Linked DNA regions of Homo sapiens: regions 2 and 3 are each linked to region 1. Evidence: fine-mapped expression QTL. A gene starts in region 1. Each other region holds a variant in brackets. All regions are shown on one strand. Distances are from middle to middle.

The links. PIP is the estimated chance that this variant, and not a neighbour inherited with it, causes the effect. A credible set is the group of variants that fine-mapping cannot tell apart.
Region 2: its variant is the best candidate, but not a certain one, in a credible set for the expression of KIFC3 in whole blood (TOPMed, PIP 0.87).
Region 3: its variant is the best candidate, but not a certain one, in a credible set for the expression of KIFC3 in whole blood (TOPMed, PIP 0.88).

The regions. Positions count from the first base shown.
Region 1 is chr16:57,799,728-57,810,656 of GRCh38, forward strand. KIFC3 (kinesin family member C3) reads right to left here and starts at 2,764. Exons shown (of 20, transcript NM_001130100.2): 1 at 2,643-2,764. LOC388282 (a long non-coding RNA gene) reads left to right here and starts at 10,792. Exons shown (of 4, transcript NR_169553.1): 1 at 10,792-10,929. RefSeq lists enhancers at 1,707-2,383, 3,061-3,737, 10,507-10,636, 10,827-10,886.
Region 2 is chr16:57,769,108-57,780,310 of GRCh38, forward strand. KIFC3 (kinesin family member C3) reads right to left here. Exons shown (of 20, transcript NM_001130100.2): 4 at 3,116-3,181; 5 at 2,436-2,579; 6 at 2,091-2,330; 7 at 1,420-1,593; 8 at 701-848; 9 at 488-618. MIR6772 (microRNA 6772) reads right to left here and starts at 3,245; the gene lies at 3,182-3,245. RefSeq lists enhancers at 5,535-6,113, 6,664-6,723, 6,692-7,270. The variant G/A (reference allele first, on the strand shown) is at 5,923.
Region 3 is chr16:57,886,812-57,891,811 of GRCh38, forward strand. It overlaps CNGB1 (cyclic nucleotide gated channel subunit beta 1), which reads right to left. Exons shown (of 33, transcript NM_001297.5): 32 at 1,044-1,263. Among named protein-coding and RNA genes, the nearest start is that of CNGB1, 82 kb to the right of the region's middle. The variant C/G (reference allele first, on the strand shown) is at 2,944.

The DNA of each region.
Region 1 (10,929 bases):
GGGCTCACTGCGGGGTGGAAAGCTGCAGAAGGAAGCTGAGAGAGGGACAGGAGCTCCAGGCAAGTATAGAGTTTTCAGAAGTGACTGAAGTGTAAGTGGGAAGGAGAGGTTGGTCAGTGCCCAGTGCATCATGCCAAAGAGACGTGGAGGACTGAAAGCCCAGACAGGCAGAAAGCCTGAGCCTGTGGAGGGAGAAGGGCAGATGGCAAACTTCGGAGGGCTCAAAGAGTGGGGCGGGAGCTGGGGGAGGAAGCAGCCACTTCCTTCTCCTTGGGGGTGTTTGGCTAGGATGGGAAGGAGAGGATGTGGTGTCTAGAATAGGGGGAGAGTTGAGCATATTGGGGAGACAGAGAGACAGGAGTGACTAAAGCATTGAGAGGCAAAAATAAATAAATAAATAAATAATAAAGTAAAGGGTCCAGGGGTTAGGGGCCTGAAGATCTGGTGTCTGATGTTTGCAGAGCCCAACCCTGGAAGAATGCCAGGCACCTGGCGAGGAAGCCATGGTCTCTTCCTTCCTTGACTTAGAACAACTAGGAGGCTCCTAGGTTCAGTCTTACTGGGAAGGGGATGGGAATGTGGGCCAAAGGACAGGGCAGAGGCTGATCTAAATACGTGGGCCAGCTCCACTGAGGAAACTGAGATGGACCAGTGTGGCGTGGAAGAAACCAAGGGGAGCAGCCAAATGTCCTCTTCTCCAGGCTGCCTGGCACAGAGCTGGGCACACAACCAACCCTGCAGACCAGCTGTCCAATGGGCAAGGGAAGGAGCAAGGCAGGTCCATCTGCAGTCTCGGCTGCTGGGAAGGTGAGACAGTGCAGGGCATTGGAGGCTGACTCCACAGTGGACAGAGAAGACTTTCAGGGAGATCAGCTCAGCTCAGTCTGAGGGGCAGGGACAGGAGGAGATAGCGTTTCTGCGGTTATCAGGAAGGGAAGTGGAGGAGGCAGCCAGGAAGATATCGGGAAGAAAGAGGAAGGGCGTGTGCTAGATCCCGAAGAGGAAAAAGCAGCTGAATTTAGCAGCCTCAGGGGTGTGAAGGTCAAAAGTATCAAGGAATCTTAAGCCCAGGGTTCTGGGCCAAGAAAGCAGGACTCTCTCTCATTTACATGGGCATCTGAGATGAAACCTGGTGTCCGGGGACTTCTACCAACCTAGGATTCGTGGGGGAGGGCAGTGGGACTGGTTCAGAACCTGGCTCCCCTGTTTACTAGATGTCTGACCTTGGGAGAATTACTTTGCCTCTCCGTACTTCATTATCTCCATCTATAAAATGGGGAGAACACCACCTTATAGGGTTGCTCTAAAGATTAGACAAGGCCAAGTGTTCAGAACAATACTGGCATATACAAAGAGCTCCAAAATTTTATTTTTCAGTTACTTTGCTCCAGTGGTGGGTGAATGCAGAGGGCCTGGCTGGGGAAGAGGGTCTCTGCCTCTCTGGGTTTAGACCAGGACAGCAGAGCTGCAATACTCCCCCTGCCCTAGATCAGGGACATTGCAAAGACTGGGGGGACAGGCTGGACAGCTGCTCAGAGACTGCAGCAAGCAGGGCTTGGTCGCCCTGGGAGAGCAGGCAGAAGGTCAAGGAAGTTGTACAGGGAATGCCACCTCCCTGCACACCATCATCTATCCTGGGCTTTCCAGGGCAACCTAGATTTCAAACCCTCTGCTCCCTGGTGCCCCTGTGAACAGCAGAACTCACCACCCTGTGCCCCTAAAGTCCACTCACTGCAAATGCAGGGCCCCATTCTGAGACTGCATTCCTAGCAAATGACTCTCCCTGGTCAAGGAGACGGCTACTCTAACAAGGGCATGGGGAATACACGTCTGGGAAAGAATGGGTGCTCACCCTGTTCAGGCAGAGGAAAAGCCGGGGAAGGTGAAAGACCAGGGGTGGCCACAACCCGCAATCTTGAGACAGTGTTGGGGTATGGAGGTGGGGGCTGGGTGGCAGTAAATGGTACTCCAGAATTTAATTAAACACAGCTTCCTCTTTAATATCTCCCAGGACCAGGCCCTTCACTGCACCAGCCAGAGTTCTGCTCTAACTAGCAATGCTGGGCTTAAAGGGGTGGTCCTGGGATCGCCCTCCCTGCTGAGACCCTCACAACTGCTGCGGCTGTCAATGGCCCGATTCCTCACTGCCCGGAGGGCACCGGCCAAGGCCCTTCTTCCTAACCTCTGGGCGGGCGCACCCCGCCCCAGGCCCTGCCAGGGAAAAAGCGAACTCCCCAAGGGACGTGGTGGGAGGGACCCAAAGGCAGCCTTCCAGGGAGCCCTGGGGGTGGGGAAGACGCCAGGAAGGGGAGAGGGCGGCGCCGATTGACAAGCCCATCCCGGGTAGGGTCTGCGCTCTTCTCGTTCAATAAAATCCAAACGGGGTCCCGAGGCTGCTCGGATCCCGTGGGACACGCCGCCCCTGTGCCCAGCTCCCAGCAAGGTCCTCGACTCGGGCTGAACGGCGCTGGAGGGGACCTCGCAGGGCTGGGTCTCCCGGGCCTTTCCCTCCCCGCGCCCATAGCGGGTCCGGGCAGAGGGGTCCCGAGGGCAGGGCCGGCCCGGACGCGGCGCCCCAAACGGCGGGCCGGGCAGAGCCCAGCGCCCCGCTCGCACCCAGCCCGCCCGGGCCCCCCACTCACCGGCCTGGCGGAGGCAGGATCCAGGCGTCGCCGCAGCGCCCGGGGCTCGGCCCGGCCCGGCCCGCCGGCAGGAGGCAGCTCCACGCCGCCGCCTCCTCCTCGGCCAGCCCGCTCGCGCCCCTCCCGCACACTTTCCACAGGAAATGATTAACTCGGGCCGCGGCGCGTTCCCATGGCAACCGGCTCCGACCCCGGCGGGGGGCGGCGGCGCGCGCCCGCACTCACGCGCACTGGCGCGCACGCGTCAGCCCGGGCGCGCCCCCGCAGGTCTCCCGCCGGCACTCCCACTCCCACTCCCACTCCTTCGCGGGGCCTCCCACTCGGTCTCTCCCGCCTCCCCGCGTCCCGCACTCGCACTGGCACACGTGCTCATGCGTTCCCTGAAGGCTCTCACAAAACAGGCCTGCACACGGGCTGGCACACACGAGGCAGCCCACACAGCCCCACACCTGGTGAGCCATGCGTACTTTTGCACAGCCTCAAACCCGAGTGCAAAACTTCCACGCGAGTACTCACACATACACTTCTCACGCGGGCTCTCATACCAGTACGTGTCTTCCCATCCCAACACACACACAAGCTCTTACTCACGAGACAATACATGTACATCCCTTACCGTGTCCTTGCACGCGCTGGCGCACATGCACTCACACTGTTTACAGCGCACACGCTCTCACTCGCTCCACCACCTACTCGCTGGCCAGGCCGCCTTCTAGCCACAGCACTTCCTACCTCTGCACCCCCAGCCCCACCCCAGCAAATGAATATCTTCCCAGCAAGGAAGCTGCCTGGAGTCCCTTAAGGTAAAACACACCAATGGTGCAGCAGTTCCCGGCCTTGCTGCAGAAGGCCCTGCTACTGGGGCACCTAGAGCCTCAGAAGAGGCCTGGGGGAGGCCAGGGGCCTGCCAGCCGGGAGAGACAGCTGACCTGGAGGAGCCACTCTGTTCTTTGTCTCCCAAACAGAGGCAGCATTTTATTCCAGAGCCAGCAGCAATATTCTCCCTCACTCTCCACACCCCCGGGTGCGGAAGAGGAGAAAGCAAGTCACTCTGAAGCCAGCCCATGCAGGCTGACGGTTCTGCAGATAATCCCAGGAGGGCGGGTACTCTGTCCCTTCCTGCTTGTCAGGGGATGGCCCAAGAAGATCAAGGAGAGGACTGGAGGGGGTCGGGCAACTCCAGGTGGGTTCTATCTCCTGCTGCCGCCCAGGCGCTGGGCTGCCAGTCAAGAATCTCGACCAGCGACGGAGCCAAGGGCCTGGGCCTCAGATTGTTCTGGACGCCAGAGCAGGACAGTCACAGTCCCCCAGCTGGAAGCAGCCTAGTGCATGCTTTATTTGACAACTGAGATTCCTCAGTGAAGGCCTGATAGAGGGTGAATGTAACGCTCCTGGAATCATTCCCTAGAGAGTTAGATTTCCAGCTGAACACCACACTGGAGAACCCTTCCAATGGGAGAGAAAGCCTTATTTGGGGAGTTATGATCTCTGAATTCCTCTGCCTGCCCTCCAAACAGCAGTGATCCAGGGGACCGCAAGGGTGGATGAAGGCAAAATGTCTCTAGAATTCTGATTTAGTATCTATCTCCCTTGATTATAGTCCCTATGAGTTGATGGGGCGGGGGATGGGGAGGACAGAATGTCTTTAAAGTCCTGGTTCAAAACTGGAGACTTTTTCTTACTCAGGGATTGAGTACATTGACATTAACTGTAGGTCCTTCCCACCAAAGCCAAAGCCAGATTTTTAAATTAATAATAACATTTATTGTTCTTTTGCTTTGATTACAAAAGTAATAGATGTTCATTGTAACCATATCCCACACACTGGAGATAAATGCTGCCAACACTTTAGAAGTCTTTTTTTTTCCTGTGTACATAATAGATGCCATTATTGAAGCTAACACTGTGTCAGGCACAGCACTAAGCTCTTTATAAACAAAATCCCATTTAACCCTGAACACCCTATGAACACCAGTACTGTTTCAGGACACCCGTGTTTCAGGAAAGGAAACTGAGCCTCAGAAAGTTTGTTCACAAATGCAGTGTGTGATAGAGCTATGACTCCAATAGGTACTCACACAGTACTATCAGATGCATATGGGTATAACAACTTATTAAGATCAAAGCACCAGCGAAGGAAAAAGGAAATTGAAGTGTAAGGAGGTTGTATTTTTGGAATTCTAGCAAAACTCCGATTTGAAACGTAAAAACTACTTGTTTCATGGTTGTTGCATTTTTGAGACAAGATCTTGATCTGTTGCCCAGGCTGGAGTGCAGTGATGCAATCATAGCTCACTATAGCCCCGAACTCCTGGGATCAAGTGATCCTCCCACCTGAGCCTCCTGAGTAGCTGGGACTACAGGCACACACCAGTGTGCCTAGCTAATTTTTTTTTTTTTTAAGTAGAGATGGGGGTGTCTCACTATGTTGCCCAGGCTGGTCTCAAACTCCTGGGCTCAAGGGATCCTTCTACCTTGGCTTTCCAAAGTCCTGGGATTACAGATGTGAAGATGTGAATCACTGTGCCTGACTCAATTTTTTTTTTTTTTTTTGAGACGGGGGCTCGCTCTGTCACCCAAGCTGGAGTGCAGTGGGATTACAGGCGCACACCACCACACCCAGCTAATTTTTTATATTTTTGGTAGAGACAGGGTTTCACCATGTTGGACAGGCTGGTTTCGAACTCCTGACCTCAAGTGATCCCCCTGCCTCGGCCTCCCAAAATGTTGGGATTGCAGGCATGAGCCACCGTGCCCAGCATGACTCAGTTTTTTAAAAAGAATATTGTGTGGAGTCGGGGTCTAGCTCTGTCGCCCTGGTTGGTCTCAGAATCTTAGCCTCAAGCGATCATCCTGCTTCAGCCTCCCAAAGTGCTGGGATTATTTGCATGAGCCACCATACCATGCCCATCCCAGTTGTTGGAATTTAAGAATGTACAATGTCATCAGGAACTACGTACCAACTCCAAGGTCATTTCTAACCCAGAAACTTCGCTGATGATTTGCATAGGAGGCTGCCAACTCTCCTGGCCCCGGGAAAGGTGCAAGTTTTGCTGAAACCTGGCCATTCCAACACTGAAGTCCTAAACCCTTGAGGGAGGACTCTTGGGTTCAGCCTTAGCCTTGACCCTTCCTGCCGAACTCTGGCAGAGGCACAGCTGTCTCAGGGAGGGCCAGACAGAAGACAGTGTCCAGAACACTGCAATTCCACGCCCACATCCACCCCATCCCCAGGCAGGGACTAGCAGCGCCATCTTTGTGTTCAGACAAGATCAGGTGTGTTCACGGTGGTATGCCCATAGACTTTTTTTTTTTTTTTTTTTTGAGACAGAGTCTCACTCTGTTGCCCAGGCTGGAGTGCAGTGGCGCAATCTCGGCTCACTGAAATCTCTGCCTCCTGGGTTCAAGCAATTCTCCTGCCTCAGCCTCCCAAGTGGCTGGGATTACAGGCATGCGCCACCACGCCCAGCTAATTTTTGTATTTTTAGTAGAGACGGTGTTTTGCCATGTTGGCCAGGCTGCTTTCAAACTCCTAATTTTTGTATTTTTAGTAGAGACGGGGTTTTGCCACGTTGGCCAGGCTGCTTGCGAACTCCTGACCTGAGGTGATCTGCCCGCCTCAACCTCCCAAAGTGCTGGGATTACAAGCATGAGCCACCACACCTGACCCATCTTTGTGTTCAGAGGGCCTGAAACCCTTTACTGCTCAGGCATTCGTCAGAGAAGTGGCCAAGAGCCTGAGAGTTCTGCTCCCCAAAGGGAAGGAAAGAAGGGGAATGAAAAGTCAGATTGTGTTTAATCTGATTCTCATAGCAACCCAGAGTAAAGCACAGATAAGATTTACATGATTTTCCCATTTTAAATGATTTAACCTCAGATCAAGTCTTCTCCGAGCCTTTGCAAATGTTGTCCTCCCTGCCTGGAAAGCCCCTCTCCTTCACCCCATTCTCATCTGCCTCCACTAACCCTTACCTGGCCAATTCCATACCTGCTTGTCCCTCCTTCAAGTTTAGAGGTCACCTTCTTTGACCCTCCCAGGCACCAGCAGGCGGGCTCAACTCACCCCCTGCAGCATCCCCGACCCTGGATCATGATGGCGTTCCTGTGTATACCATCTGCTCCTTCAGGACAGGACCCTTTCGTTACTTGATCACAGGGAAATCCTCAGCTGACCCCAGCTCAGGGCCTGGTATCACAGACATGTTCATTGAATAAATCCATAGATCCCATAGAATTCAGAAGGGAAGAACAGGTGCGTGAAATGTACCCAAACAGACTTTCTTCCCATGTAAAGTAATGATAATTTCTACCAAAAGGAAGTAAGAGAAGGCTCCTTAGCAATTATTTCCATGTGGTCAGGAAGGAGTGCCCTGCAGCTGTGAAAAGTGTGTCCTCTCATGCTTCTGGGTAACAGAACATTTATTGAAGTTGGAGAAACTCATTCTGGAGTGAGCCGCATATTAAGTAATCCTGACCCAATTAGCTGCTTTTTTGAATCCACATCTTCCAATCTTCCAATCCCTCTGAAATCATTCATCATGAGCACCGCAGAAAGAACTACGGAGGAGGCTGGACGTGGTGGCTCACGCCTGTAATCCCAGCACTTTGGGAGGCTGAGGCGGGCAATCACCTGAGGTCAGCAGTTCGAGACCAGCCTGGCCAACATGGCTAAACCCCATCTCTATTAAAAATACAAAAATTACCCGATGTGCTGGTGGGCGCCTGTAATCCCAGCTACTTAGGAGGCTGAGGCAGGAGAATTGCTTGAACCCAGGAGGTGGAGGTTGCAGTGAGCAAAGATCATGCCACTGCACTCCAGCCTGGGCAACAGAGCAAGACTTTGTCTAAAAAAAGAAAAAAAAAAACCCCGTGGAAGAGCTCTTGGAGGTGAAGAGCCTGGCACTGCACCCAGCCCCATAAGCATGAATTTGGTTTCCAGCTTTGCATGTCACCAACTGCAGGTCTTGGGCACATGACTCACCCTGAGCACCTCAGGGGGTCTGGCACAAGGCTCACAGCTGCAAGCTCTCAGGAAGCCAGGCTCCTCAGTGGGCATGGAGAGGTGGTGGTCTTGGATGTCCCTTGACTGGACTGTAAATTCCTGTCATCCTTGTCTGCTCTAGACCCAGCTCAGCAAGCATTAGGTGTTCAAGTGATATTTAAACTAATGGTACTTTTCTCACTCTTTTCTCTCCCTCTCACCTTCCTGCTCCCTGTGTCCCTTCCTTTCTAGAAGCTGTATTAACAGGGGAAAACAGTTCTCCCATTTTCAGAGAACCAAGGCAATCTTTCCCCCAAGAAAATCACCTTGCCGGCCAGGCACAGTGGCTCATGAGACAGGAGGATCGCTTGAGGCCAGGAGTTCTAGACCAGCCTGAACAACATATTGAGACCCTGTCTCTACAAAACAACAAGCCAGGCGCGGTGGCACAGGCCTGTGGTCCCAGCTACTCAGGAGGCTGAGGCGGGAGGATGGCGTGGGCCCAGGAGTTTGAGGCTGCAGTAAGCTATGATCGTGTCACTGTACTCCAGCCTGGGCAACAGAGCAAGATCCTGTCTTAAAAAAAAAAAAAAAAAAAAAAAAAAAAAACCTTCTAAGAGGACTAGAAAATAAAAAGGAAACCACCTTGCTTTAAAATCCAAATGGTGGCTGCCTTTCTGCATTGGCCAAAAAGACTGAACTCGACAGTTCTCCCCTAACTCTCAGTTTAGGGGAACCTAAAGCCTTATGACTCAAGGAGGAATTTGGCGGAGATTCCCTCCCTCCTAGCACTCCAAGGCTAAAAGCAAACGGAGGCTTTGTGAGGTTTTTTTTCCCCTTTTATCATTTCCTGTAGTCTTAAAAAAATGAGAGGAATGCAAACATTGAGGAGATAATGGACGTAAGCACCAGGTAATAAAAAGATTTAGCAATAACCGCCCTGAGAGTAGCACGGGCCAAATAAGCCCCGCCCCCGGCCCGCCTCTCAGCCCGAGGATCCTCCCACCATCCTCCAGAAGCCGCCGGGCTCCTCCTTGCTAAGTGTTCTGCCGCTTCTCTCCTTGCTCCTAAATTGTTATAGCTCCGGGTTCTAAACCAGCACATGCGTTATTAACATCCTTCGCATTTTTCCCCACTTCCTCATTCACTTCTCCCCACCTGCTGCAAATTCTAGGTGGCAGTTTTTGTTTTTGAACTTAAAATTTTTTTTTTTCTGCACAAATCTAATAGAAACCAAGAGAGAGAGGAAAAACACAAAAACTAAAACACCAAATCCCACCACCCTTCACTTATTGTCATTGGCCCAGATTTTTCTTTCCAGTATCTGACCTTGAGCTGATGTCATTTCTGTGTTAAGGAGAGACAGTATAGAGAGATGGCTAAAGGTGGTTCTGAGGCCAGGCAGACCTGGGTTTGAGCTCATTCACTGGCTCAGTCACTTCTGCTGTGCCTCAGTTTCCTCCTGTGAAAATGAGAGTAGGGCTAGTGTCTAACCCATTGAGTTATGGTGAGATGTAAATTGGAGCAAGCACATAGCACCCTCAGCCCAGCATCTGGCACACAATTGGCATTTCTGCAAACACAAGCTGCAGTTATAGTGGGAGGCAAAGACCGGATAGAATTTTTTACTCTGCCTTTTCTTACTTTGAATCATGTAAGTGCTGGGTGTGGTGGCTCATGCCTGTAGTCCCAGCTTCTTGGAAGGCAGAGGTGGGAGGATCGCTTAAGCCCAGGAGTTGGTCAGCCTGGCCAACATAGCAAGACTCCCATCTCTAAATTTTTTTTAATTATTATAATAAGCATTTTCCATGTCACTTTTTCCTGCTAATGCCTACATTTTTCTGAAGTGCAGACATCATAGGATAAAGCCAAGGTCACATTCAGAATGGAGGTTCCAGTGTCTGGGGCGCACCTAGCACTCAATAAAAATGGCTGAAAAGTATTTCATTTATTCACTTATTTAGAGTTGGGGTCTCGCTCTCTCACCCAGGCTGGAGTGAGGTGGCATGATCAGAGCTCACTGCAGCCTTAAACTCCTGAGTTGAAGCAGTCCTCCCACCTCAGCCTCCCGTGTACTGGAACTACAGCTGTGAGCCACTGCACCCAGCAAAAAACTATTTTAAATGGCTGCATAATATTCCACTGAGAGCCTGTGCCCTGACTGAGCTGGCCATTCCGTAGGGTCTGATATTTGAGTAGCTCCCATTTTTGTCACTTTTATAAACAGCATTGCTGTCACCATTGCCACCCACACAGCCCGTTCATTCCCTGGTGTGGGGAGGGAAGGGAGAAGAGAGGTTGTCAATTTCATAAAAAATCTTTCTGAATAAAGAGTCTGAGCATTTTTTTTTCACTTTCTAAACATGTTGCCAGATTGCCCCTCAGAAGGCCTGTACCAAATTTACACTGTCGTTGGCAGCATTTTTTGACGAGAACTACTTTTCACGCTAATTTACAGTTTTTCTCTTGGATCTGGAATTCTCGCCCTGGCTGGTTCTCCTGGGAGGCATGAGGCATATATAAAGATATCTGAGCGATGGCTGTCACCAGAGGGGCGTATCTGGTTCTTCTGCCAGGTGCTCAGGCCGGGAGTGTTTCTGTCTGCTGGGCCAGGCCAGGTGGGGCTGAGAGCACTGACTCAGTGCTCCCAATCCCTGCCTGCTGTTAAGCCCTCAGAGATCTTCTGAGGTCAGTCCTGGAACGCCTCAGTACCCCGCGGTCCAACACTCTGGCCCATCCTAGACGGATGAGTCTCATCTGGTGCCACCACCATGATTCCTGCTCTCACACCCTGGCACTTCACTGGGGCTCCTTGCAGTAAGTCAATCAGCTACTACTGGGGGAAAAAAAAATTCCTCCTGGGTGGGGAGATGGGGACAGGGGCCATAAGGGAAGCCACGTGCTCCTGGAAAGCCATAGCCACAGCCCCTGACCACCTGCTGAACTCTTAGCACCACTGCTGCTGCTGCCTTTAAACTGTAGCTTCGCTTTGCTGAGGTTCTGTGGTGCGCAGCCTCTCCCCTAGCTCTGGTCCTCCTCCTCTGGGGGTGGCCCTTGTTTGCAAACAGCAACAGGAAGTTTTGACGCTGCTGATTAACTAGACTCCCACAGCTCTCAGTGCTGAGTCATCGCCACCAGTGTCAACCTCCCGCCCGCCCCGCTGACACCACCAGCTTCCAGGTGACCGAGAGGAAGCAGCAAGGATCCTGCGGTTCCAGTGGCTTCCATCTGCCACCTTCCAAGGGAGGGGAGGGACAAACTTCCATCCACCCCAGACAACCAGAATGTGCAGGGCCCTGAATGCCA
Region 2 (11,203 bases), 30 kb before region 1:
ACCGCAACCTCCGCCTTCTGGGTTCAAGTGATTCTCCTGCCTCAGCCTCCCGAGTAGCTGGAATTAACAGGCACCTGCCACCCATGCCCAGCTAATTTTTGTAATTTTAGTAGAGACGAAGTTTCGCCTTGTTGGCCAGGCTGGTCTCAAACTCCTGACCTCAAGTGATCCGCCTGCCTCGGCCTCCCAAAGTGTTGGAATTACAGGTGTGAGCCACCGCGCCTGGCCTGCATGTTTGAAATATGAAGTTATCTGTAACATGTTTGGTTTAAAGAATCATAGTAAGACAAATAGCCGAATGCCTGCCCTGAGCAGTCTAGTTTCAAACAGGGCCTATAAGGGCAGCAGTAAGTGTCATGGGGGGTGGGGCAGGGGCTGCTGTCTGAGCGGCTTTGTCTGAGCTTTGGAGGGACGCCCTGAGTGGATGTCGTGCCTCTCCCAGTGCACCCCCTTAGCCTGGACCCTCCCACCCACTGCCCTCGCTCACCTCGGCCTTGACACTCCTGAGGGCCTCCTGCAGCAGCAGTGGGAAGCCGCGCACCTGCCGCTTGAGCCCATTGTAGTCGTTGGTGAGGGTCCGCAGTGCCGGCTGCAAGGTCAGCAAGTTGGTCCGGACGCCTATGGGGACACTCGGGCTGTGAGGCGGGAGGGGATGAGGGGCCGCGGCGTGGGGCAGACAGGGCCCAGCTGGTCAGCTCACCTGCTAGATTCTCGTGCACAGCCTTCATCTCCACCTGGGCTCTGGCAAAGGCCTCCTCAATGGCCCGGTTCTTGTCCTCTTCCAGGGACTGCATCTCCTCCAGCATCTGCCCATGGGCCCGCTCCAGCTCTGACTCGTACATGGCAATCTGGCCAGACCAGGAAAAGGCTCAGTACCTCGAGGTGCGGGAGAGAGAGGGGCAGGTGCCACACCGAGAAAGAAACTGGTCACCTCCCATGCACATGAACACACATGCACACACACATGTGCACACCCAGAGGGGCAGAATGGCCTTGTCTCCCTCCCCCTACAGGGCTGTGAGCTCTGGGCATTGGCTCCAACACCAACCCAGTGCTGAGCACACATCAGGTGCCCAAGCCACGTGCCCTCAGGAAGGTAGGAGAGGGCCTCTGTGATGACAGTGACAAGTGCCATGTAGAGCTTACTGAGCACAGCCTGTGTGCTGGGCCGTGGGCACAAAGCTTCTTGGGATGACGTTCCTGAGTCCCCACTGTGAGGTGGGTTCTGGGACCAGATCGTGTTATAATAGATGAGGAAAAGGAAACCAGACAAAACTTGCCCTGGGTCCCGTGGCCATCGGGGAGAGGAGGGACTGGACCCCGTGTCTGTGGGGTACCCAAATGTTTAACCGATGCATTGGCCCAAGGGCCTGCCTCTGGCTTCCTGGCTGGGCATGTGCCCCCACACAGCCTGGGTACCTGCGCCCGGAGCCGCGCGGTCAGCTGGTGTGAGCTCTGCAGCTGCTGTTCCATCTCCTTCAGCACCTGCCTCTGCATAGCCACCTGCTCCTGCAGGTGCTGGTTCCGGGCCTGGGACTCGCTGAGGGCCTGCTTGGTCTTGGACGACTCCACCTCCACTGTCTTGATGACATACTGCAGGGTGAGGGAGGAATGGCACGTGGAGCCAGCGGGCACCGTACCTCACCCAAGAGCCTGAGACGCAGCAGGCCAGGGGAAGGAACTCTCGGGAACATCCCACTCAGAAACCAGAAAAAAACTAGAGGAGCCTTGAGGTCCTGGCTTTCCAGAAAGCTGGGGGGGTCTCCTGGAACCTTCTCAGCTTAACAAGAGGCTACTATGAGCCTGGCTGGGGCCCCATCCTGGGTACAGACAAGAAAGGCAAAAAGACGAGGGCAGAATCCAGGGGCTGCGCTGCATCTGTGCCTGGCACCTCAGCTGTTGGATACCTACTCGGTGCCTGGCCCTGGATACAGGAAGGGGAAGGGGCAGGACCAAGCACAGAACTGGAATGATTCTTCCACCCACACACACCTACCTATTCACCAGGACAAGCCCCCCTTATGGGCTAGCCCTGCCCCAGGTGCCAGGGGCCTTGGGCTGAGGCACAGATCAGGTGGGCCAGGGCTCACCTTGACAGGTGGGGACTGGGCCCGCAGGCTGGCAATGGTCTCGTGGCTGTCACGCAGGCGCCGACTAAGCCGCTCCTCCTCCTGTGCCTTCTCAGCCAGGCAGTCCTTGAGTCGCAGCTCCACCTCAGCCAGCCGGTCGGTCTTCTGCTGCACCTCTAGGTTCAGCTCTGACAGCATGCCTTTGCTTTCCGCCATCTCCAGCTGCAGCTGGGACAGCTTGTCACGGAGCTGGGCGCTCTCCTGCAGCCATTGGGAGGCACTGGATGAGTGCAAGGGACAGGCTCACTGTGAGGAGCTGGGGTGGCCCTCCAGGACCAGCATGGGGACCACGGCCATTCTGCTCACCTGGCTGTGCTCACAACCTGGGCAGGGACCTGCTGGCTTTGTGCGCAGCTCTTGCAGCTCGGCCTCACAGCGCCGCATCTCCTGCCTCAGTCGCTCATTCTCCACCATCAGCAGGTCCCGGTGCTTCTCCAAGTCGGTGCCCCCCTGCAGAGAGCCAGGGCCGAGGGGGCGCATGTGGCGAGGGCAGATGACGGGGGAAAGAAGAGAGGCCCGCGGAGATGGCACAAGGGCAGGGAAGAGAGGAGAGGTGTGGAGAAAGGCAGAGGGAAGGAGAAAAAGAAAAAGAAAAAGGCAAGGGCAAGAGAGGAGGGAACAAGCTCAAGAGAGAAACCAAGAGAAAGACAGTGGAGGGCAGAGTTGAGAAGGGTGGTGACCCAGAGCCTGCTCTCCCTGCTGCCCCCACCCTATTCTGAGTGTGAAAGTCACAAGGAGAGACATATTTATACCAGGGTTCACACTCCCGTTTAATGTCAGCAACAGAGAAGGAACCTCCCACCCCCTGGAGCCACAAGGCCTCTGAGGGTACTAGGAGGTGGGGATAAGGCTCTCGGTGTGTTTCTGAGACAGGGTGGGATATGCGGGCTCAGGAGAGAGAGGGTCGCACCCCTGCCCCTGGCAGGGCCCATCTGCACAAGGCAGGCCAGGCCCTGCGCTACCCCAGGACAGCCTTGTGGCCTCACCAGCTCAGATCGCAGTCGGCTCACTTCCTGGGCCTGGCTAATGAGCTTCTCCTTCAGGTGTTCTACCTGTGGGCACAGAGTCAGGAGCAAGGTGAGCCTCAGTCCTCAGCTCCAGCCTACACCCAGGCCTCCTGCCCAGCACCAGGGATGACTGATGTGGCTGTGGCTTCTTCTAAGGCTGTGGCCTTAGGTTCCCCTATGTTCAAGCATCCCATCACACCTGGGACTTCAGGTGAGAGAAACCTGGGCTGGTGCTGACAGCCTCCCGCACCCTCTCCCTCCACAGGACAGAGCCAACCCCAGCTCTTCAGGAAAGCCCAGAGGGCAAGTGCAACCAAGGCCACCCCGATGCCCCCTGGGCCCACCCAACGGCAGCCCACCCTCAGGACCCCTCACTACACGAGCCCCTCCCAAAGTCCTGTACCTGCCTGTGTCTATGTAATTTTATGTTCTCTCTCTTTAAAAGGGCCCCCAGATGGTACATACTCCAGGTCCTCCGAGCCCTAGATCCACCCTGGCCCAGCCCCCAGAATTTTCCACTTGGGGTGGTCTCTGGCAAGTCAGCCTGTGGAGATGGGTCTGCCAGTGGTCAGGGCACACTCAGAACCTGTGTCCACCCCTGCTCCCAATCTGCCTTGCAGGAAAGCTGTGGCAGCCAAGGCTCTTATAGGGGGAAGGGGGTGTGCACCCCATGAGGAAGCCACGGTTACCTAGCTTATCCGGACCCCAGAAGAGGGGACACCATCATGGTGCCAGTCCCATGAGGGCAGATCCCAGGGGAGCAACCCTTCCCCGGCGCTGTCCTCCAGCCACCCATCCCCTCCCAAGGCCCTAGACCCTGGTCTCACATCAGCCCACCCCCAGAAACCTCTCTCAGGAAACAATTCACAGACACAGACTTTGGCTCCAGCTTCCGTCAGGGCATGTTTAGTACTTTTCTTGCAGAACGTCCTGTGGTGAGCAACCCCCACCTCGGGAAAGGTGCGCTAAGAGCCAGATTCCTGTGTGGTGGTTTAGGAGGTTTACACAGCTGGGTTCTCATTACTAAATGATAGGCAACAACGTCCACTGATTACAGGGGACAGCCAGGTAAGGCAGGTGAGGGGCTGTGCAGGGCTTGGCTCCCAAGAACCCTTTAAGAAGGCGGCCACCACGTACTCTCCTCGGACGACAGGAGGTGAGAACGCACACCCAGCATCGCCAAAATTCTCATCTTTCAAGAGAGGCCTAGGCCAGCCTGAGCAACACAGCAAGACCCCATCTCTACAAAAAGTTTCAAAACTCAGCCGAGTGCACCAGTGCACGCTTATAATCCCAGCTGTAATCCGGGGGGTTAGGTGGGAGATCACCTGAGCCCAGGAGTTTGAAGCTGCAGTAAGCTATGATAGCATCACTGTACCCCAGGGTGACAGAGCGAGGCTGTCTAAAAAAAATAAAATAAAAATAGAGGCTTAGAGTCCGCCCCCTTAGCACTCAGCAGCATGCATCAGCCATAGTTAAGACAGGCCGGACATTTGGATTTTGGGGGTGTGTGTAAAATCTCCCTACTTTACATGGTTGAGATGTCATCAAACAAGTCTGTGTCATCAAACAAGGTAGTGTTCGGCCTCGGAGGTCCCTGTCTCCCAGGGTGGGAGAGAACGGCTGACTCACAGCAGCTAGGCCAGCTCTGAGTGGTCAGGGAGGAAGTGGACCAAGGGATCCACCCCCACCTCTGAGGAAAAGGCCAGGGAGCTGGCACTGCCTGCTCTTGGTGGGGCAGGGGGATTCCAAGATGCAAGACCCAGGTGAAAGGCTGGGGGCCCAGCCAGGCCTCCTGGGGGACAAGCAGGTGACCCAAGGGCCAGACCCCTGGAGGTCAGCTCTGCCGCCACCTGCACAAACACATTCCTTCCTAGCAACACGCTGGGCCACGGGCCAGGCAGGGAGGCAGAGCTTGTGCCACTTCTCTGCCCGCTCAGTGCCTGATGAGAGGACGGCTCAAGTCCTTTGGCCCCTGGGTGGGAGTAGGGACAGTTTGCATGAGGCAGCCTTTCTGCTTTCGTCCTAAAATTGAGAATACCCTGAATAAGCACCCTTAGAGGAGTGGGCAGGTGAATTACAATGTGTATATATAGTACATAGACTATTCTGTCATCATTACATTCATGTTTATCAGGAGTTTTAAATGTCATGGGGAAAGGCTCATCAACATATTAAGTCCAAGAAACATCTGAAAAACCATTAAGTGTACAGCACTAAAAAGTGGGGGTCTCTGGGCTGTGGAATTATAGTTGACAAAATCTTTATGCTTTTCAGTAATTTTTTTTTTTCTTTTTGAGACAGGGTCTCACTCTGTCACCCAGGCTGGAGTGCAGTGCCTCGATCTAGGCTCACTGCAGCCTAGACCTCCTGGACTCAAGCCATCCTCCCATCTCAGCCTCCCGAGTAGCTGGGACTACAAGCACATACCATCACGCCCGGCTAATTTTTTTTTTTTTTTTAATGTATAGAAGGGTCTTGCCATTTTGCCCAAGCTGGCCTTGAATTCCTGGCCTCAAGCAGTCTTCCCGCCTCAGCCTCCCAAAGTGCTGGGATTACCGTTGTGAGCCCCTGCGCCCGGCCAGTAATTTTTCAGTCTCAAAGAATACGTAATTCCTACTCTCCCTACCCTGACATAAGTGAACTGACTTCCTCTTCAAAAGGTTGAAGTCTCCTTCCACGCCCCCTCCCTCCCCAGAAAGGCTGCTGCCTCAGCATGGGGCTGGGCGCACTAACCTTGATCATCTCCACTGCCGCCCCTGCCAGGCACTCAGACCCTGATGCAG[G/A]GAGAGTGGGGTTTGCCAGTGTTTGCTGGGGGTGGGAGGCGGGATACCCACCAGCCACCTGCCTGCGGCCCAGGGTTCTGTTCTGTCCTTGCATCACAATGGGAACCTGGGGGCTCCTGGGCTCTGTCCAGAATCTCAGAGGGGCACCCAAAAGGAAGTGGCCGCAACCGCAACCAGGGCAGGCTGGGGAGCATGGGGGATGGTGAGGGAGTTGAGGAAGGGGCTCTAAAGGCCCCTTTGTTCAGAGGTGTCAGACACTAGGTCATCTCTGGCTTCTTGAGGGCAGCAAAGCAGGGGGAATGTGACTGAGACGCAGCAGACTGGCACCACGAGCACTCTGGCCAAGGCACCAGTGGCCTGCTCCGTGGCAGGTGGTTGGCCAGCTCTACTGGGGGCTAGGTCTCGGGCTTGTAGGGAAGATGTCTGCTTTCTCCTGCACTTGAAGGCAGGCAATCTCTCAGAGTTAGGGAAAACAGGCAAGAAGTCAGAGAGAAACGGAGGCACCTGGGGAAAGCGGATGGAAGATGGCCTGGGAGCAGTGAGAGCCAAGAGCAGGCAGGGCCTTCCTCAGGGAAGACTGAGGGCCCTTCACACACTCACCGCAGCTTCCAGCCAGCAAGGGCCGTCCATGTCTCTAAGCCCAACAGGGGAGGGTCCCGAGTGCCACCCTGGGCCCGATACATACTTGTGGCCACAAAGGGGCAGCAGGCACATGCCTGAGCCCAAGACACAGGACGGAGGAGAAAGCAGACTCCCCACTAGGCGGCTGAAACGGTCCCAGGACAGCATGGACGTCAATCCAGGGCTGAGGACGGACCAGGCTGGGGCTGTGCGACACTCCTCCCGGGCCCAGGCTCCTCATCAGCCAGAGCAACTGAATCACGGGCCTGCTGCAGGGGGCGTCACCCTGCCTGCTCAAGGGGAAGAGGGAGCTGGGCCTGTCTGCCGGCTTGACACCACCTGCATTTACACTTCACAGGCAGAAGCGGCTCGACCAAGGGTGGGGCCAGCCAGCCCAGGTCTTTGTGTTTTCTCAGCTGTCTGCTTCCAAGGCGGCCTCTTACCATCACAGAAAGAAAACCTGCTGGTTACCTCCTTACCTCCCACCAAGCCCAGTCAACGATCATCAGCTGTCTGCTGAGGAAAAGCGGGCTCTCCCAGGCTGAAGCTGCTGAGCTGGGAAGGCCAGAGGGTCTGGGATCCAGACAACCTCAAGGAAACTCAGCCCAGAGGCCAGCGGGGCGGCCCTGGGAGCACACCCTGTGGAGCCCACAGAAGGCCTGATCCTGGCTGTATGACCACCGGCCAGGCCTATCTGTCCCCTGTCCACGCCACCCTGCCTCTGTTGCCAAGTCTTCACCTCTGGGTCCTTCCGCCACTGATGGGCAGTAATAGCAGCTGACAATTCGAATTCTAAAGCCAGGCTGCCCAGGTTCTAATCCAGACATCCCCTTACCTGCTGGGTAACCTTGGACAAGTCTCTTAAGTTCTCTATGTCTCTTAGTTTCCTTATTTGTATAATGAGGCTACCTCATGGAAGCTGTCTCGAGGATTAAACGAGATGATATATGCGAAGGCAGGGATTTTTGTCTGTTGTGTTCAGCACTGTACTCCCAGTGCCTGGAACAGTGCCTGGTACACAGTAGGTGTTCAGTAAGTACCTGTAGGAAGAATGCTGAATGCATGAGGGGCCAGCCAGAGCAGAACTTGTGGATGAGGTTGGTAAGCAGAGACAGAAAGGGTGGTGGGGCTGGAGCGTGCTAAAGGATGGTCACCTCCACCAAAGGCAGGAGCTGCCACTAGACCTCAAGCGGTGGGTGCCATGTGGGAATGTCAGCTCAGAGGTGCCACATCTTCCAATATTTTATGACAAAAAGGAAGTCTAGAGTTTTATGTGAATTTAATTAAGATTTGAATGTTGGAATTAATTTGATTTTAAAAGCAGGGCAATTAGAACTAATAAATTCAGCAAAGTTGAAGGATACAAAATGAACACACAAAAATCGGTTACATTTCTACAACTAACAATAAACAATCCAAAAAGGAAATTAAGAAAATAATTCCATTTACAATAGCATCAAAAAGAATAAAGTACCGAGGAATAAACTTAACAAAGGTTAAATATTGTATGCTAAAAACTACAAGATATTGGTGAAAGAAATTAAAGATGACACCAATAAATGGAAAGACATTCCATGTTCATGGATTAGAAGATTTAATATTGATAAGGTGTCAGTACTACCCAAAGTGATCTACAGATTCAATGCAATGCCTAACAAAATCCCAATGACATTTTCTAAAGAAATAGAAAAATCCATATCAAGGGACACCACATAGCTAAAACAGTCTTGAAAGACTGAAGGTCTCACACTTCCTGATTTCAAAACTCACTAAAAAGCTACAGCAATTGGCCAGGCGCGGTGGCTCATGCCTGTAATCCCAGCACTTTGGGAGGCCGAGGCAGGCGGATCACCTGAGGTCAGAAGTTTGAGGCCACCCTGGCCAACGTGACGAAACCCCATCTCTACTAAAAATACAAAAATTAGCCGGGCCTCATGGCAGGCGCCTGTAATCCCAGCTACTCAGGAGGCTGAGGCAGGAGAATCGCTTGAACCCGAGAGGCAGAGGTCGCAGTGAGCTGAGATTGCACCACTGCACTCCCGCCTGGGCAGCAGAGCAAGACTCCATCTCAAATAAAAAAAAAATTAAAAAAAAAAAAGCTACAGCAATCAAAGCAGTGTGGTACTGACATTAAAACAGACATAAAGAGCAATGGAATGGAATACAGAGTCCAGAAATAAACCCTCGCATATATGGTTAAATGATTTTTGACAAGGTTGCCAAGATCATTTAATGTGGGAAAGGATAATCTTTTCAACAAATGGTGCTGAGAAAACTGGATATCCACAGGCAAAAGAATGGAGTTGGATCCTTACCTTATACCATATACAAAAATTAACTCAAAATAGATCAAAGAGGGCCAGGCGTGGTGTAATCCCAGCACTTTGGGAGGCCAAGGTAGGAGGAGTGCTCGAGCCCAGGAGTTCAAGACCAGCCTGGGCAACATAGGGAAACCCTGTCTCTACAACAAGTAACCAAAATTAGCTGGGCACAGTGGCACACGCCTGTGGTCCCAGCTACTAGGGAGGCTGAGGCGGGCAGATCACTTGAGCCCAGGAGGCCAAGGCCACAGTGAGCCATGACTATACCACCACACTGCAGCCTGGGCAATACAGCAAGATCTTGTGTCAAAACAAAAAACAAAAAACCCCAAAGACCTAAATGTGAGAGCTAAAACTATAAAACTCTCAGAAGAAAATAGAGGAGAAAATGTCATGACATTAAATTTGGCAATGACTTCTTGGATATAACACCAAAAGCACAGGCAATAAAAGAAAAAATAGGTAAGTCAGACTTTATCAAAATTAAAAACTTTTGTATAACAAAGGACACTATCAACAGAGTGAAAAGGCAACACGTGGAAAATACTCGCAAATCATTTATCTGATAAGGAGTTATTATCCTGGATATATAAAGAACTATAACTCAACAACAACAAACCCAATTTAAGAATGAGCAAAGAACTTGAATAGCAATTTCTCCAGAGAAGACATACAAATAACTAAAACACACATGAAAAGATATTTAATATCACTGGCATTAGGGAAATGCAAATCAAAACCACTATGAGATACCACTGCACACCTATTAGGATGGCTGTTACAAAAATGAAAATAAGCAGGAGCGAGTCCCAGCTACTCCAGGAGGCTGAGGCACAAAGATTGCCTGAGGCCAGGAGTTCAGAGGCTACAGTGAGCTATGACCATGAACGGCCACTGCACTCTAGTCTGGGCAACATAGCGAGACCTCATCTCTACAAATAAATAAAGAAAATGAAAAACAAGTGCTGATAAGGATATGGAGAAACTGGAACCCGTGTGCACTGTTAGTGGGAATGTAAAATGGTGCGGCCACTATGGAAAACAGTATGATGGTTCCTCAAAAAATTAAAAATTGAACTATCATATGATCCAGCAATTCCATTTCTGGGTATATACCCAAAATAATTTAAAGGAGGGGTTCAAAGAGATACTTGTACACTCATGTTTATAGCAGCATTATTCACAGTAACCAAAAGGTGGAAGCAGCCCATGGATGGATGAATGGAAAAACAAAACAAACAAAACGTGGTATATCCATACAATGCAATATTACTCAGCCTTAAAAAGGAAGAAAATTCTGATGCATGCTACATAGATGAACTTTGAGGACATTATACTAAGTGAAATAAGCCAGTCACAGAAGGACAAATATTGGATGATTCCACTTACATGAGCAGTCAAACCCACGGAGACAGATGGCGAATGAGGAGTTACTCTTTAATGAGGCCCAAATTTCAGTAGCAGAAGATGAAAAGAGTTCTGGAGATGGATGGTGTATTAGTCAGTTTTCACACTGCTATAAAGAAATACCTGAGACTGGGTAATTTATAAAGAAAAGAGGTTTCATCAGGCATGGTGACTCACACCGGTAATCCCAGCACTTTGGGAGGCCGAGGCAGGTGGATCACTTGAGGTCAGGAGTCTGAGACCAGCCTGGCCAACATGGTGAAACCCTGTCTCTACTAAAAATACAAAAGCCGGGTGTGGTGGTGTACACCTGTAGTCCCAGCTATGCGGGAGCCGGAGACAGGAGAATCACTTGAACCCAGGAGGCGAAAGTTGCAGTGAGCTGAGATTGTGCCACTGTACTCCAGCCTGGGAGACAGAGACTCCATCTCAAAAAATAAAAATAAATAAATAAATAAATAAATAGATAGATAAATAAAAGAGGTTTAATTGACTCACAGTTCCACATGGCTGGGGAGGCCTCAGGAAACTTACAATCCTGGCAGAAGGAGGAGGAGACACAAAGCATGTCTTCTATGGCGGCAGGAGAGAGATAGTGAGCACATGAAGGGCAAACTGCCACTTTTAAACCATCAGACCTCATGAGAACTCACTATCACAAGAACTGCATGGAGGAAACCACCCCATGATCCGTTCACCTCTCACCAGGTCCCTCCCTTGACATGTGGGGATTACAATTCGAGATGAAATTTGGGTGGGGACACAGAGCCAAACTGTATCAGATGGTGATGGTTGTTGCACAATGAGAATGTACTGCTGCTGAACGTTACTCTCAAAAATGCTTCAGATCAGCCGGGCGCGGTGGCTCACGCCAATAATCCCAGCACTTTGGGAGGCTTAAGCAGGTGGATCACCTGAGGTCAGGAATTTAA
Region 3 (5,000 bases), 84 kb after region 1:
ATAGGTTTATGGGGGTGGGGACATTTGGCATTTTGCCTGTGTGAGAGGTTTTCACTTTCAAATTTTTATTTTTCATTTTTTGAGACAGGGTCTCACTCTGTCACCCAGGCTGGAGTGCAATGGTGCAATCATAGCTCACTGCAGTCTCGACTTCCTGGGCTCAAGTGATGCTCCCAACTCAGCCTCCCAAGTAGCTAGGACCACAGGCATGTGCCACTAAGCCTGGCTAATTAAAAAGAAAAAAAGAAAAAATTTGTAGAGACAAGTTCTCGCTATGTTGCCCAGGCTGGTCTTGAAATCCTGGCCTGAAGAGATCCTCCTGCCTTGGCCTTTCAAAGTGCTGGGATTACAAGTGTGAGCTACCATGCCTGACCCAAATATCTTAAATTGTCACAGACACAGTATTAAATATGAGGACACACTGTCTTCTGGGGCCGGACATTTGCTTCTCATACCCTCTCCTCTAACCTCTGCAACAGTATCAAGACTGCCTTTTAGAGATCCTGCTCCCAGCCTACTCTCAGTCCAGGGGCGGGTATGTGACCCAGGCCTCTTTAGAGCACCATAGTGCCCTGGCCACACCGAATGGCTCAAGAATTGGCATGTGACCCAATTCTGTCCAATGACAGTGAGTCCTGGAACTTTTGCTAGAATCCCTGGGAAAGAGGTGCTTTCTTTCTGTTGGAGTTGCTATGCCAGGAGGATGTCATCCTAGATAGAACTCTTGAGAACCTGTCTGGAGATAAAACCATCACTGAATAAAGCAGAGATGACACGATGGGAAAACTCGTCCTGTTGGCATCTTTCGGGCTTTTGGATCCAGGCTTGCCTGAACTTTTCGATTACGTGACCCCTAATTCCCGTTTTTCTCAAGCTAATTTGAGCTTGCACTCTGTCACTGGTAACCAAATGAGCCCTGACTGATAGAAAAAGGAGGGGGAAGACCCTAAAACTAAATGTGTGGCCCACTCTTGGAGACCCCTTGGCCTTCTCCCTGACACATATTGAAATGAACGTGGTGGCTGGGTTCCCAACCACATTACCTGTTCCACCAACTCTTGCTGCTTTGCAGCCGCCTCCAGCGCGGCCAGTTCTTTGAGCCGGGCCCGGAGGTGAGCAAGTTTGCCGCCTTTTGCCCCCTTGCCACCCATCTTTCCTGTCATAGCGAGGGCAGCGTTGAAGAGCTTTGGGGTGCCCGCCCGGGGTGGAAGGATCAGCACGCTCTTCTCCTCCTTGGGCTTATTGTTGCTTCTCAGCATGCGCCTGGAAGAAAGCAGCATCCATTGACATCACAGACGCACTCTGGGGGAAAAGAAAGACTCGCTTCTGCAGCCTCCTTTAAGCTGGAGCTGTGTAGTGGTGGTGATTTTGGCTGGTGATTGTAGAGAGTTTTTTCTGGGCCAAGCGTCGTGTTAAGTACTTTATGCATTGCATCTCATTGAAGGATCAGAACAACTGTAATGAGGTGGGTCTTACTGTCTGTTGTACCTTAGAGATGAGGAAAATGATGCTCAGAGAGGTTGAATAACTTGTCTGAGGTCACACAGCTACGAAATTCTTCTCTTTCCTTCCTTTCTGTCTCTCTCTCTCTCCTCTCTCTTCTGTCTTCTCTCCTCTCTCCTCTTCTCTTCCTCTCTCTCTCTGTCTCTGTCTCTGTCTCTCTCTCTCTCTCTTTCTCACAGGGTCTGGCTCTGTCGCCCAGGCAGGAGTGTAGTGGCGTGATCATGGCTTACTGCAGCCTTGACCTCCATGGCTCAAGCAATCCTCCCACCTGAGTAGCTGGAACTACAGGTATGCACCACCACAATTTTTTATCTTTTTGTAGAGACAGGGTTTCGCCATGTTGCCCAGGCTGGTCTCAAACTCCTGGGCTCAAGCGATCTACCCGCCTTGGCCTCCCAAAGTGTTGAAATTACAGGTGTGAGGCACCGCGCCTGGCCTCTTTCTTTTTTTTAACCAGCAGAAGAGTTAGGAAATCCTGAAGGACACTTTCACATAGGGAATTGGGAATAAGATGCCCAGGTGGAAAAGGAACCAAAGCTCTTTCCTTCTCCTTCTGCTTCACTGTCACCTCCCCCTCGTCACCATCACAATTATCAGCATTTACTGAGTGTCTGTATATGCCAGGCCCTCTGCTCCATCCTTTGCAGGCACCCTTCAGTGGCTCCTATTACCCCCTTCCTGGTGTTCACGCCTCTGTGTGGTCCCCTTCCCTTGAGGATGGGTGGGGTACGTGTCTTGCTTTTAAACAATCGAATACAACAAGGGCTATCACTGGTAGAATATGTCACACAGGATTGTGATCTCTGTCTTGCAAGGGGACTCTCCCTTGCTGACTTTATTTATTTTTTATTTGATTTTTATTTTAAGTAATAGAGACGGGGTCTCCCTATGTTGCTCAGGCTGGTCTTGAACTCCTGGGCTCGAGCAATCCTCCTGCCATGGCCTCGCAAAGTGCTGGGATTACAGGCACGAGCCACAGTGCCTGGCCTCCCTTGATGACTTTGATGTAGGGAGCAGCCAGCTGTGTTGGAGAAGGCCCACATGGCAAGGACCTGAGGCCAGCCACTGGCCAATTGCTAGTGGGAGCTGGGGCCCCAGTCCTACAACCCCAAGGAACTGAATTACACCAACAACCATGTGATCCTGGAAGTGGGTCCTTCCCCCATCCAGACTTGAGATGAGAGCCTGCTCTGGAAGACATCTTGATGACAATCTTGCAGAGGACCTAGCTAAGCCATGTCCGGACTTCTAACCCACAGAAACTGAGATCGCAAATGTGTGACTTTAAACAGCTAAATTTGTGGTAATACTGTTATGCTAATACATACTCTCTCATTTAAGTCTCACAACAATCCCCATAAGTAGGTCTTATTATTCATCCTCATTTCCAAATGAGGGTATAGAAGTTCAGAGGGGGTGAGTAACTTTCCCAAGGCCACA[C/G]AGCTAAGAAGCGGCAAAGCTAGAATTCAAACCCACACTTCTGACCCCAGTGCCCCAGATATTAATGATTACAAAACGACATTGCATCATTATCTTCCTGGGCACTGACAAATACCCCTGTGACATGGAAAGGGCTGAGATTATTGTGCCTCTGACAGTTGGGGAAATTGAGGCTCAGAGCAGGGGGAGTGACGTGCCCAAGGTTACCAGGAAGTGGCAGAAGCAGAATTGCCACCCACATCTAATGGCATGTACCACCCTGTTTCTCTAGATAAGGGTAGATTTTCCATCAAAGAGAGCCCTAGCTTTTTACCGGCAATTTTTCACACTACAAACATGCGGTGAGCAGTTTGTCTCAAGAACAAATGAATTCTGCCTGCAACCAGCGGGCCTAGACAATGAATTGGCAAATTCATTCATCAAGGCTCCAGCAAAACTTGTTTGTTTAAAAATGAGGCCATTACTGGCTGCTTATCTAATCAGAGGCAATGGGTTTAAATTGTGCATGTTGATATTAATTGCCCAAGATTTGCATTTCTAGCTGGAGATCCCCCAGGAGAACACAAACATGATAATTCACCAGACGCCTCTGACACGCGCCAGCTCGGCACTGTCCCCCATGTTATTTGAGTCCATAATTCATGATGTGACAGCCCACAGGAAGGCTGAGGGTGCTGTGAAAATGAACTATCTTTTTCTTTCTAACAAAATAACTATGTATAGGACCTTTGCTGATTGCTACTAGCTGTCTCTGTTTGGAAACATTGAGCTAGCTTCTGGGGCATTTCCAGATTAGGGAAATTTGTCCTCATTTTCTGATGATGTATGCTTCCCTGTAACTGAGATTGAGCAATCAGCCTGGAGCAAGTGACCCACATAAGACCTCTTCATCCTCTTTTTTGGAGTGGTCAAGCCGGAGATCTCAGCACTTCACTTCTTTGGGGACCCAGGTCCCCCATCTGCAAAGCAGGGAGCTTGGACAGAATCCCACACGTGGCCCTCACCAACTCAGATGTCCCCGGGACTATGGTTCTCAGACAGTGTATCTCCCCTGATGAGCAGAGCTCATACACAATCCCCTGCCTCTCTGGTCAAGCTGGCCTGGCCAGCAAACAACCACTCTGATGACTCATGGCTGAGACCCCCATTCCCACGCCCCCCCATGTTGCTGTGAGGCCTGTTAGCCCCATTCCTTCGCCTGGCTGCCTCCCACCCACACCTCAGCCTTCTCAGTGTGGACACAGGTGCACAGGCACTGTCAGGAATGGGGGCCTCTGCACAGCTCTTGGGAGGTGCCTTTGGGGTCCCATCTGATTTGCCAAACTCTTGCCTAACCCACCCAGCAGGATGGGTAACAGCTAAAAGCATGGCTTTCCTGAGCTTTGCTCCTCCTGGTGGGGGTGGGGGCAAGAAGAGAGGGTGGGGAGACCTGGTACCAGTTTTCAGTCATAAGCAGTTGAATCTCATGATTTGTAGTAATTATGTCCTATAAGATCTCTGCGGACACTGAATTAGCAAAAATGGAAACATTGTTCCTAGGGGAAATACAAGGCTAGATTCCTACAAATCTCCCATCACAACATTCATCAACCATAATACATGAACTTGGCCAGGCGTGGTGGTTCACACACAGTCCCAGAACACTGGGAGGCCAAGGCGGGAGATTTCTTGAGCCCAGGAGTTCGAGGCTGCAGTGAGCTATGATCGTGTCACTGCACTCCAGCCTGGGTGAAAGAGCACGACCCTGTCTCTAAAATTAATAATAATAAACTTGTCTTATGTGTGTTTCTTTTTAAAGACATTATTATTATTATTATTTTGAGACAGAGTCTCACTTTGTTGCCCAGGCTGCATTACAGTGGTGTGATCTTGGCTCACTGCAACCTCTGCCTCCCAGGGTCAAGCCATTCTCCTGCCTCAGCCTCCCGGGTAGCTGGGATGATAGGTGCCCATGACCACGCCTGGCTAATTTTTGTATTTTTAGTAGAGATGGGGTTTCACCATGTTGGCCAGGCTGATCCTGAACTCCTGACCTCAGGTGATCCACCCACCTCAGC